Linked DNA regions of Homo sapiens. The protein of the gene in region 1 purifies or fractionates together with the protein of each later gene. This does not show direct contact. Each region holds a gene or a part of one and is shown in the gene's direction. Other genes may lie near its edges.

Region 1 (3,755 bases):
CCCCTTGTCATCAGCTCAGCCCAGTGAAAGGAGCACTGAGCCCAGCGTCAGGCCTGGTTCTCACCTGACTCTGTCACCCTGGGCCTGTGGGGTCCCAGCAGGTCACTTTTTACAGCCTCAGCTTCCTCATCTGTGAATAAGGGGTCAACAGACCGTAGTCTCCCACATCTCCCCATTACATATGGAATAAACTCCCAACTCCGCAGGCCTTTGGAGCACCTTAGTGCAGAGCAGCCTCTGCACCCACCAACACCTCCCTCCCATCGTCCTCCTTCTCTCCCGTTCCTCTCAGCCCTGGCTCAGTCCATGCTGATCCATCCTTTCTGTCTGAAACCCCTCCTGCTCTCCTCTCCTGTCTTGAGTAGACAGGACTGCTCTCTTCTGTAGCATTTTTTACCTACCTTTCTTTCTTTCTTTCTTTTGAGATGGAGTCTCACTCTGTTGCCCAGGCTGGAGTGCAATGGCGCCATCTCAGCTCACTGCAACCCCCACCTCCCAGGTTCAAGTGATTCTCTTGCCTTGGCCTCCTGAGTAGTTGGAATTACAGGCACTCGCCACCATGCCCGGCTAATTTTTTTTGTATTCTTAGTAGAGCCGGGGTTTCACCATGTTGGCCAGGCTAGTCTTGAACTCCTGACCTCGTGATCTGCCCGCCTCGGCCTCCCACAGTGCTGGGATTACTGGCATAAGCCACCGCACCCAGCCTTCCCTACCTTTCTAAACCATGAGGCCCTGTATGGTTAGGGGCCACAACTTACTTATCTCTGAACTCGTGGGTGTCTTGGCAATACCTGGTACACAGTAAGTCCTCAATAAATATAGGATGCATAAACGAGTAAAATCCAAGCCATTTCCCACTAAAACCTCCAGACCTCTGGTGTATGATGACCTGCTGTCATAGCCCAAAGGAATGGTTGAGTTTCAGGTATCCAGAGAAAAATGCAGGTGTAGAGCTTTCCCCTCAAACGTATTAACAAATAGATGGTGCTCAGTCATTTTCGCGGCAGGCTGCAGAGAAATCTTAAACTTTCGTGTTGTTTCACTGAGGGTACGGCAGAAGAGCCCAAGGAATGTGAAAGGAGAAACTTGCATAATTAGACTTTATGTGGGGAGTAGGCACCGAGTGTGTGACAAGCACAAGGGGCTACGTGTGCGGCCAGATGACGCTGCACGGTCAGAACCCACAAAACAACACGGCAACAGGTGGATTTTAAACCCCTTCTCTGCTTTCAAAGCAGGTCCAGGCTCTACATTTACAGAAGGAGAGTTAGGGCAAGGGGAATGTGGGGGAAACTGAAATTAGTTAGAACTAAGATCAGCAATAAAATTCTTCAAAGACACTGCTTCTCACTTTACCAGGATTTTTGTTTTGTTTTGTTTTGAGTTTTTATTTCTTCTTTTTCTTTTTTGTTCTTTGCTTTTATCAATGAAGCAAGTTGCTAGGATGCAAAAGGAGTTGGGGGGTAGAAGGGCGGGGTGGGAAGCAGAGGTGGGAGGGGTCGAGGTTGGAGCACCTGTCGTCTGCATGACGTGGACGGCTGGTTCTGGTTGTATTTTAAATGAAATCTCATCCCAGCGTAGACACCACGTCTGGAATTACGATCCACCCTGTGATCTGTCACTTTTATATACACACAGGGGAGGGGACCGTTTCCATAGAGAGGGAATATCACAGCCCACTTAGGAACAATACCGGAGAAGCAGGAGCCGAGACCCCGGAGCAGCCACAAGTTCATGGGGACGTGCACGGGGCCGCCCTCCTGGCCCTGAAGCTGCGCCGGCCTCCCTGAGCGTTTCGCTGCGGAGGGAAGTCCACTCTCGGGTAAGCTTGTGGCTGGGACTGACTTATGAAGGGTAAATGTATCTGCCCTAATTTAAGCAGGAGGTGCCATGCACTAGACAGGTGTGAGAGATGAGAGCTGCTAGCGCCCCTGGGTGGAAGCCCAAGGGAGCGATGCTGAACGCCCCCCACCCAATCAGCAGAAATCAGCCCCAAAGGGACCAGGGGAAGTTTCTCAGGGAGGCACAATCACATTCCCACGTTGGTATAGAGAGACCCTCTTTCCAAAGGTGTTAGATCAGAGGCAGAAGGTGTTCACACAAATCTGTTTTCTCTGAACAGAGCACAGCTGTGCACAGGAAAGTCAGTCCTCGGAGACAGTTTACAAATGGGGATGGGGTAGGGATGCCGGGGCTAATGGGAGCCACAGGACATGACTCCACGCCGCCTGCAAAGCAGCGAGGACACCTGCACTTACTGTTTACCTGTGCCACAAACCTTCACCTGTGCCATCTCCCGTCACTCTCGGGCACACCTGTGAAGCAGGTAACGTCTCCTTCCTAGGACGCGGCAAGTGAAATGCAGGTTAAGGGATTCACCCAAGAAAAGTCAGAGGCAAGGGAGTTTCCCCAGCCAGGTCCTCTGCCACCAAAGCCCAGAGCCCTTTGCCACACTAGGAACATTGCGGGGGTGTGTGCAGATACCTACAATGGCTAACTCCTACCTGTGAAGGGGAGATGGATGTTTGATGTTTATGTTTTCTGAAAATTCCTGTTCGCAATTTCTTTCCCAAGCATAGCCACCTACCAAAAATAACAAATGTGAGATTTTTAAAACGTTTTAAGTGGTCTAGTTTCAGTTTAACTTCTTATCAGTGTTTGCAGACAAACGGAGCCCACAGGAATAGCTCTGCACTTGGCAGAGATGTGTGATCAGTACTGTTTGCCTCCTGCCTTTGCTGCTTCATGTCCTGTCCTCTCCCTGTGAGGTGCTGGGAATTGGAGGCTGACCCAGGTCCCTCACGTTTCAGTGCTTGGCTCTGCCACAGCTCCCAGAAGTAACTGTGTCTCTTTACAGCATCCTCGACAAGTGCTACTGTCACCATAGCCCAAAGGAATGGTTGAGTTTCAGGCACCCAGAGAAAAATACAGGTGTAGAGCTTTGCCCCTCAAATGTATTAATAACTAGATGGTGCCCAGTTATTTTCGTGGCAGACTGCAGAGAAATCTTAAACTTTTGTGCTGTTTCACCAAGAATATGGCAGAAGAGTCCAAGGAATGTAAAAGGAGAAACTTGCAAAATTAGACTTTATGTGGGAAGTACAGAGTATCTTTTCTTCTTTGGGGAGAGTTCCTTTTCTTTTATCCTATAAACCCTAAACAAATCTAAACAGATCCTAAAAAGAAAAGTCCTGGAAAGAAATCTGAATCTACCTTCCAGCCCCCAGCCACTCACACACTTTGATGGTGAAACCATCCAGGGTTGCAAAGAACCCTTACATTTTAAACGATCTAAAACTAAGCTCAGCACCGGGCGTCCCTATCATGTCCAATTCACAGTTCTGGGAGGTTCCTTTGCTGTGTAACTTTGCATCATTGCTGATGGTAAGGGGACACCTTTCAATACCCTCACAACCGTGTGCAGGCTAGAGCTGAGGGTTTGCAGAGAGAGAAAGGTCTGCTACCTGCAGATGCACCAAGAACAGAGCGCCACGCAGGACACTTGCTCCCTGACACTTTCACAGATTTTTCCACACCTTCAGCACCCTAGCCGTGATTACAGTATTCTTCTCTGATGGTAGACTTGGGATTTGAAAAATAAGAAGGTAATGCATTTTTTAAAAGGCACAGTATTTACAAATTGACCCCAAAAATGTGAAAAAGTAAATATAGAGGTAAAAGGGATCTCACTCCCTCTCCCCAATGCCTTGCTTTTGTAACTGAGATGAGACAGGTAGCACTTCCAGGGAACACAT
Region 2 (3,655 bases), on another chromosome or scaffold:
AGTGCATGAAAGTCTCATATGTAAAAAATGATTATTCTGAATTTAATCTGTCATTGGTCATATTTCTAAGTGTTCAACCTTATAAAAAAAATAAATGACTATCAAAAAAGAGAAAAACCTTACATTATGTTCTACTAGTTAAGTTTTCAAGGACAGTGTTCACTAGTCTACCATAGACCCTAGAAGAGTTACCCAACACATAGTAGCACTCAAATATTTGTTGAATGAATTATAAAAATGACTACTTGTACTGTTAATTTTGTGTATTCTAGTGAATTAAATCTCTTCGGCATCATTTACTCCCTTAGGTATTTGACTTTGTGTCAAATGTTTTGGCAAGGATAAAATTATAACAGACTTTCTTGAACAACCAAAATATAATCTATTAAGGATTTTCCTTCACTTTTGATAAAATAAGAAAAAAGGAAATTAAAACCTTGCATCCTAATGTAAAATAGAATTATATGGTGTTTAATATCAGTGTCCCTTTAGCTATTATATTAAACTACTATAGTTAATAAATTTTATCATTATTTTGTATGTTGGTTTTTAAAAATTTCATAAAGCTATAAAAAGATACTTGGTCAGATAAAGTTTCCTCTGCTTTTAATTTTAATAAAGTATTATTATGTATATGATTTCTTTTTACCTATTATATATATGCATCTATTGTTTTCTCACTGGTAAATATGGGACGGACATTTTGTTAGAAGGTTAGAAGTGAGTTAAATTTTCACATTCCTAAGGGTACTTTTGTCTTGGGTTGTTGAATATATTTTAAAGTGTTTATAATAATCACTTCAAAATATTTAGGTAATTAACTGTAAATGATGTTTTGGTATTCTCCAGGGACAATGGCCTTAGAGCTATTGAGAATTTGATGCAAAAGAAGGGGAAATTTGATTACATACTGTTAGAGACCACTGGATTGGCAGACCCAGGTAAGAAGTGAGGTTGTTAATAACCAGAATATAGTTCTGTGATATACTGTAAATAGATGTATTAGAGGAATATCTAACATGAGGATTAAAGCTTTTGTTAGTATTAAACCAAAAACTTTTTTTGGTTTAAAAGAGGAAAAGTACTCGGTTGTCATTTTCTTTGGCAGTTGAATGAATGAACGGAGTATTTCTTGGTACTTTTAAGCTGTTAATAGAATTTGAAGTTTTATTGATTGACTTAGGATTATTTGTAAGAACAGAAGTTGTTAAAAATAAGGACATGTAGGAAGAGCAGAGACGTTCTACCTCTAAGTACAGTTGTCCCTTGGCATCCATGGGGTATTAGTTCCGGAACCTCTGAGGATACCAAAATCTATTAATGTTCAAGTCCCTTACATAAAATGGTGTAGTATTTGCCTATAACCTATGCACATCCTCCCATATACTTTAAATCATCTGTAGATTACTTATAATACCTAATACAATGTAAGTGCTGTGTAAGTAGTTATTACACTGCATTGATAAGGGAATCATGACAGGGAACTCTGAACTCTACTATGGAAAGCTACACAGAGTCAACCTGTTTCTAACAATGGGTTTCTGTTACCTTCTTACCAAGCTCTAATTCTTGATAAAGTCTGCTTATTTTCCCCAAATAACTTTTAGATAAAATCTTTATTTTCAGTTTGCATAAAAGTTAGTGCTTATTCTGTGAATCTGTGAATCTGACCCATACCATTATTTTTTTTTTTTTTTTTGATCTGGGTCTCTGGCATTGGGGCGATTTGTAAAACTATATTAAAGTATTTGGGGGTAATTTACTAAACAGGTCATAGTTGTCCAAAAGAAATATTGAAGTATCCTGAGAGTTCAAATGTGATCCGTGGTTATTGTAATTAAAACAATTACATAATAACATCATCCCCATGTTTTCAAAGTAGTATTGAATTAGGCTATTTTGGTCCTTATAGTAGGCATGGGTTTTCATACCTTTCTGATAAATCTGACTGATGATAGGACTTGGACTAATATGTTGGTGTTAAATATTTGAATCTGGTAAGAAAGAAAAATATATTGTATGCTTTTATTAGAAATAGCAAATATCAGTTTATTTCATCATAGCCAGTTTTGCCATTTTATAGACAAAAACTTGATACTTTTGAGAGTTTAATTAAACACGATTCAGCTTTTCAGAGGAAGAAAGAAAAACTAAAGATCACAGAGAAAGCTTTTATACAAATTGTAGTTATAAAAAATCTTAATGTTTCTTGCTTCTAACTTTCTTTACAATAAAGATTTTATTGTTTGGGTAAAGATGGAACATTCATTGTAAAAAAATTTAAATACCTAAAAAATACAAAGAAGAAAGTTGAAAAGTAATCATCTCACTATTGTGATATACAAGTAGGGGCTGGGCATGGTGGCTCATGCCTGTAATCCCAGCACTTTGGAAGGCTGAGGCAGGTGGATCCCTTGAGGCCAGGAGTTCAAGACCAGCCTAGCCAACATGGTGAAATCCAGTCTCTACTGAAAATTCAAAAACTAGCCAGGCGTTGTGGCGCACCCCATAATCCCAGCTACTCAGGAGGCTAAGGCATGAGAATCACTTCAAAGCTGGGAGGCGGAGGTTGCGGTGAGCCGAGATCACGCCACTGCACTCCAGCCCAGGCAACAGAGCAAGACTGTATACACACACACACACACGCACATGCACACGCACACACACACACACACACATTCATACACACACACACATTCATACACACACACACAAGTAGGTAAATTTTATTCCAGGGATCTCTCTATGCCAGTGCTACTTGGTAGTATGTTGAATGGCAGCCTCAGCCTCATCTGGGAGCTTGTTAGAAAGGCAAATTCTTGACCAACCCAGATCTACTGAATCGGAATCTCTAAGGGAGGGGGTCAAGCAAGCTGTTTTTAATAAGCCCTTCAGGTGATTCTTATACTGTACAGCCATACCGCAGGGATATTGTGGGCTTAGTTCCATATCACTGCAGTAAACTGAATATCACAATAGAGTGAGTCACACACATTTTTTTGTTTCCCATTGCATATAAAAGTTATGCGTTTTGGCCGGGTGTGATGTCACAGGCCTGTAGTCCCAGCTACTTGGGAGGATCACTTGAGCTCAGGAGTTTGAGGCTGCAGTGAGTCATGATTGCACCACTGCACTCCAGCCTGGATGACAGCATGAGACCCCATTTCTTAAAAAAAAAAAAAAAAGCTGTGTTTATACTATACTGTAGTCTATAAAATGTGTAATAGAATTGTCTAAAAAACATACATACCTTAATTAAAAATATTTATTGCTAAAAAATGCTAACAATCATCTCAGCTTTCAGCAAGTCATAATCTTTTTGCTGGTAGAGGGTCTTGCCACAATGTTGATGGGTGCTGACCAATCAGGGTAGTAGTTACTGAAGGTTGGGGTGGCTATCGCAATTTCATAAGATAATAATGAAGTTTGCTGCATTAGTTGACTCTCCCTTTCATAAAAGATGTCTCTATAGCACATGATGCTATTTGATAGCATTTTACCCACAGTATGACTTCTTTCAAAATTGGAGTCAGTCCTCTCAAACCCTGCTTTATCAATTAAGCTTCTGTCATATTTTAAATCCTTTGTTGTCATTTTGACAGTGTTCATAGCATCTTCACCAGGAGTAGATTCCATCTCAAGAAACCACGTTCTT
Region 3 (3,655 bases), on another chromosome or scaffold:
GAACCCAAAAAAATCATTTTGCTTTATTGTATTTGACAGTTCTGGAAAATGAGGATTTTCTGGTCTATACAGTTTTCTTCTACATGCCTACCTTTCTAATAAACTGAATCTTTGTGTAGCCATGATTGCAGGCAATCTAACTAAAATCAGACTCCATTCATAAATTGGGTTTGCCCAGCTGTGTGGATACTAATAGACTATTTTAAGTTCAGCTCGTAACTTCAGTGCACAATAAATGCATTCACATCACCCTTTATTGTGCTGCTGTGACTCCCCAGAAAGTAGCTCTGAACAATTTGAGCATTTCTGTACAATTATCTTTTGACAAAACTATAGAGCAGAAACAGTACTGAAGTAGGAATCAGAAAGTCACATCCTAGCTGTGTGATCTTTGGAAAGTCACACAGTCACTCACAGCCCAGTTTCTTCATCTGCCAGAGGAGGATAATTATACTAACCATGACTGCTTTGCAGCCTTCTTATAAAAACAGAAGCAAATAATGTATGATCATTTATTTTGAAAACTCTAAACTGTTATGCACTCTTTTAATTGAACCACTATATCATTATTATAATTACTGGCACTTTCCTAGCATCCTTTACAAGCTCAGTGATCATGTCAGCTGATCATCCAGGCCTGACATTTTCCCTCCGCCTCATAAGGAGTGAACCAACCTATAACCAGCCAGTACAGCAGTGGAGCTTTGTCTCTGACTTTGCCGTAAGTGACTAAGACTCTTAATTAATTTTCTTCTGCTGCTGCCATCTGATTACACCTCAGATTTTTAAATGTAATATATCAATATCTTCTCCTCAAAGGTACGTGACTACTCAGGGACCTATACTGTGAAGCTGGTGCCATGCACTGCCCCATCACATCAGGAATACCGCCTGCCAGTCACCTGCAACCCCAGAGAACCTGTCACCTTTGACCTTGACATCCGATTCCAACAGGTGTGGCTTATAGAATTACTATCTTATGACTTGCAGAATCCCACTTTGTTTTTCATTTATTAGTAAAAAAAAAAAAAATCCACACGTGAATGACTTTAATTCTTGCATGCTGAAAAGAAAAGAAATCAGACAGTTAAGGAAGCTAGGGATAAAAGAATGAGGAGAGATTTGCCCTTTATCTGTTGTTAGTACAGGATGTAAAATTCAGAGTTTAAATGTATGCAATGGTTATTTTTTTCTTATCTGATCTTATCTTGTGTCCTCCTGAAGTTTGCTGTCTTGGAGATTTGAGAATTTTCCCCGCACTTCTGCATTTCTTTTCTTGTTCTTCTCTAAAGAGAATGAAATCCTGTAGCTCAAACCACCTCAAAGTACCTAATTGCCATTATGTATTATAAAAAATGTGATGGCATCTTTTTTTCAAGAATTTTTACTGTTGGCCTTCTACTGACAATGATATTTACAAGTCCTTTATATACCCCAATAAACCAGTGGAAATGAGCTCAAGCAATGCTGTTTAGTCCCATTCAAAAAATGACTTGATCCCACCAGTTTTGCCTTCTCAAGGACAAAAGCAATGTTACAACTCTCTGAGTTAGCTTGGTAGGGTGTGAAAATTGCGATGCAGTGTTTAGTGTTCTACAGTGTACGGTGAATGTATGTATCTGTGAACAGTATGTTTGTGCACCATCAGAACCACTGATGCATAAAAGAACTTTTACCTTTGGTTTTAGGTCAGTGATCCAGTGGCTGCTGAGTTTAGCTTGAACACCCAAATGTACCTGCTCTCTAAGAAGAGTCTCTGGTTGTCTGATGGATCCATGGGATTCGGGCAAGAGAGTGATGTTGCTTTTGCAGAAGGTATCACTTTACAAATGAGAGGGATGCTCTGTTTGTCATGTATATCTTTTGTGCTTTGCTTTTTGGGGATTGTGTTTGAGGGGGCAAATTATAGCTTTTTTTATGGTTTTGAGAATGTAACTGGGTCTTTACCCACTCTGGCTGGTGTGGGAAGTCGTTGCGATTGGGTATATGTAACTGGGTATCTTTTTTTTCTGAGGAAGCTAATCTCTAGCTGTCTTACCTAAGTGACTTTTGGAACAAGTCTAGATGATTTTCTCGAATGTTTTTTTTCAATCTGTGTAAACTTAAATGCTGCAGCTACATGAGACTGTAAATGCCTCTCAGGCAAAGATTGTGCCTGCCTTACTCAATGGTGTATATTCAGCACCCAGCACACATACCTAGCAGAAATACCTGGCACTCATGGTAGGGGTTCAATAATAGTTATGAAATAAAGAATTGAACACCAGGGGGTTTCATTAAACCCTCTTTCAGAAACAAATAACGTTAATTAGGCTTTGTATTGATACTTTCTTTCTTAGTGTTATTCTATATTGTATCAGTATATATCTTATCAACTTATTTTTGTAAACTGGACTTGGACCACAATGGGATATTATTAATGCCAAATTATAGGCCAGATCTTTGAAATTATTCACACTAGTGGCTGAGCATCTGAGACTCAATAAATCTTTAGTCACTTCTGGTCAGTCTGCAAAGTGGTCTTACCTGAGGCCTGAGAATGTACCAGATCTTGAAGCTCATGCAAACAGGCCTTCAACATTTGATAGTAGATGAGGGTGGCAAGGAAATAATCTCTGTGTCCTCATTGTCATAACCTGTTTACAGTGTCACGTTGATATACCTTATCATATAACAGAAATAACATTTCCACATCTCTATTTCAGGTGATATAATTTATGGTCGTGTCATGGTGGATCCTGTCCAGAATCTGGGTGACTCCTTTTACTGCAGCATTGAGAAGGTGTTTCTATGCACTGGAGCTGATGGCTATGTTCCCAAGTATAGTCCAATGAATGCAGAATATGGCTGCTTAGCCGACTCTCCTTCACTCTTATATAGATTTAAAATTGTGGTAAGTGCTTTGACCCAAAAAATGAGCTAGATAGATTTTTCAAAGTTCAGCCTCCTTGTCTTATATTTAAAAACAAGGCTGGGCACAGTGGCCACACTATAGTCCCAGCACTTTGGGAGGCCAAGGTAGAAGGATCACTTGAAGCCAGGATTTCAAGACCAGCCTGGGCAACATAGTGAGACCCCATCTCTACAAAAAATTTTAAAAAATTAGCCGAGCATCGTGGCACATGCCTGGAGTCCCAGCTACTTGGGAGGCTGAGGTGGGAAGATTGCTTAAGTCAGGAAGTTCAATCTATGATCATGCTACTGCACTCTAGCCTGGGTGACAGAGAAGGTCCCCGTCTCTTAAAAAAAATAGAAAAACCAACAAAATGATCATTTTTAGTAAACCAAATGGTGACATTTTATAGTAATTTGTACTTGCACAAAACAAATAGAGAAACATGCTGTCCTGGCAAAAGCCGTGGCATTATCTACAGCAATCACCACTTTCCTTACTGCTTAAAGGACAAAGCTCAGCCAGAGACACAAGCGACCAGTTTTGGAAATGTCCTATTTAATGCCAAACTAGCAGTGGATGACCCTGAAGCCATTCTCTTAGTGAATCAGCCTGGATCTGATGGATTTAAAGTCGACTCAACACCACTCTTTCAGGTAGGCCAAAAACAAGCTCATTTGTAGTAGTTGTGTACCCACATGCAAGTTATGGAACATTTATATGCCTCAGATGTCTCATATGTAAATAGCAGTAATAGTAATA

What was found.
Region 2: the proteins of UCN3 (region 1) and ZNG1B purify together in Homo sapiens (affinity purification with mass spectrometry; one large-scale study listed by BioGRID and IntAct). This does not show direct contact.
Region 3: the proteins of UCN3 (region 1) and FREM2 purify together in Homo sapiens (affinity purification with mass spectrometry; one large-scale study listed by BioGRID and IntAct). This does not show direct contact.

What each region holds. Positions count from the first base shown.
Region 1 is NC_000010.11:5,363,409-5,367,163, forward strand, and holds the start of UCN3 (urocortin-3 preproprotein), read left to right. Parts: upstream 1-1,557; 5' UTR 1,558-1,822; intron 1,823-3,755. UniProt on the Homo sapiens protein: Suppresses food intake, delays gastric emptying and decreases heat-induced edema. Might represent an endogenous ligand for maintaining homeostasis after stress.
Region 2 is NC_000002.12:113,444,115-113,447,769, forward strand, and holds part of ZNG1B (zinc-regulated GTPase metalloprotein activator 1B), read left to right. Parts: intron 1-849; coding exon 850-941; intron 942-3,655. UniProt on the Homo sapiens protein: Zinc chaperone that directly transfers zinc cofactor to target metalloproteins, thereby activating them.
Region 3 is NC_000013.11:38,875,429-38,879,083, forward strand, and holds part of FREM2 (FRAS1-related extracellular matrix protein 2 precursor), read left to right. Parts: intron 1-593; coding exon 594-721; intron 722-819; coding exon 820-954; intron 955-1,688; coding exon 1,689-1,815; intron 1,816-2,705; coding exon 2,706-2,893; intron 2,894-3,402; coding exon 3,403-3,549; intron 3,550-3,655. UniProt on the Homo sapiens protein: Extracellular matrix protein required for maintenance of the integrity of the skin epithelium and for maintenance of renal epithelia. Required for epidermal adhesion. Involved in the development of eyelids and the anterior segment of the eyeballs.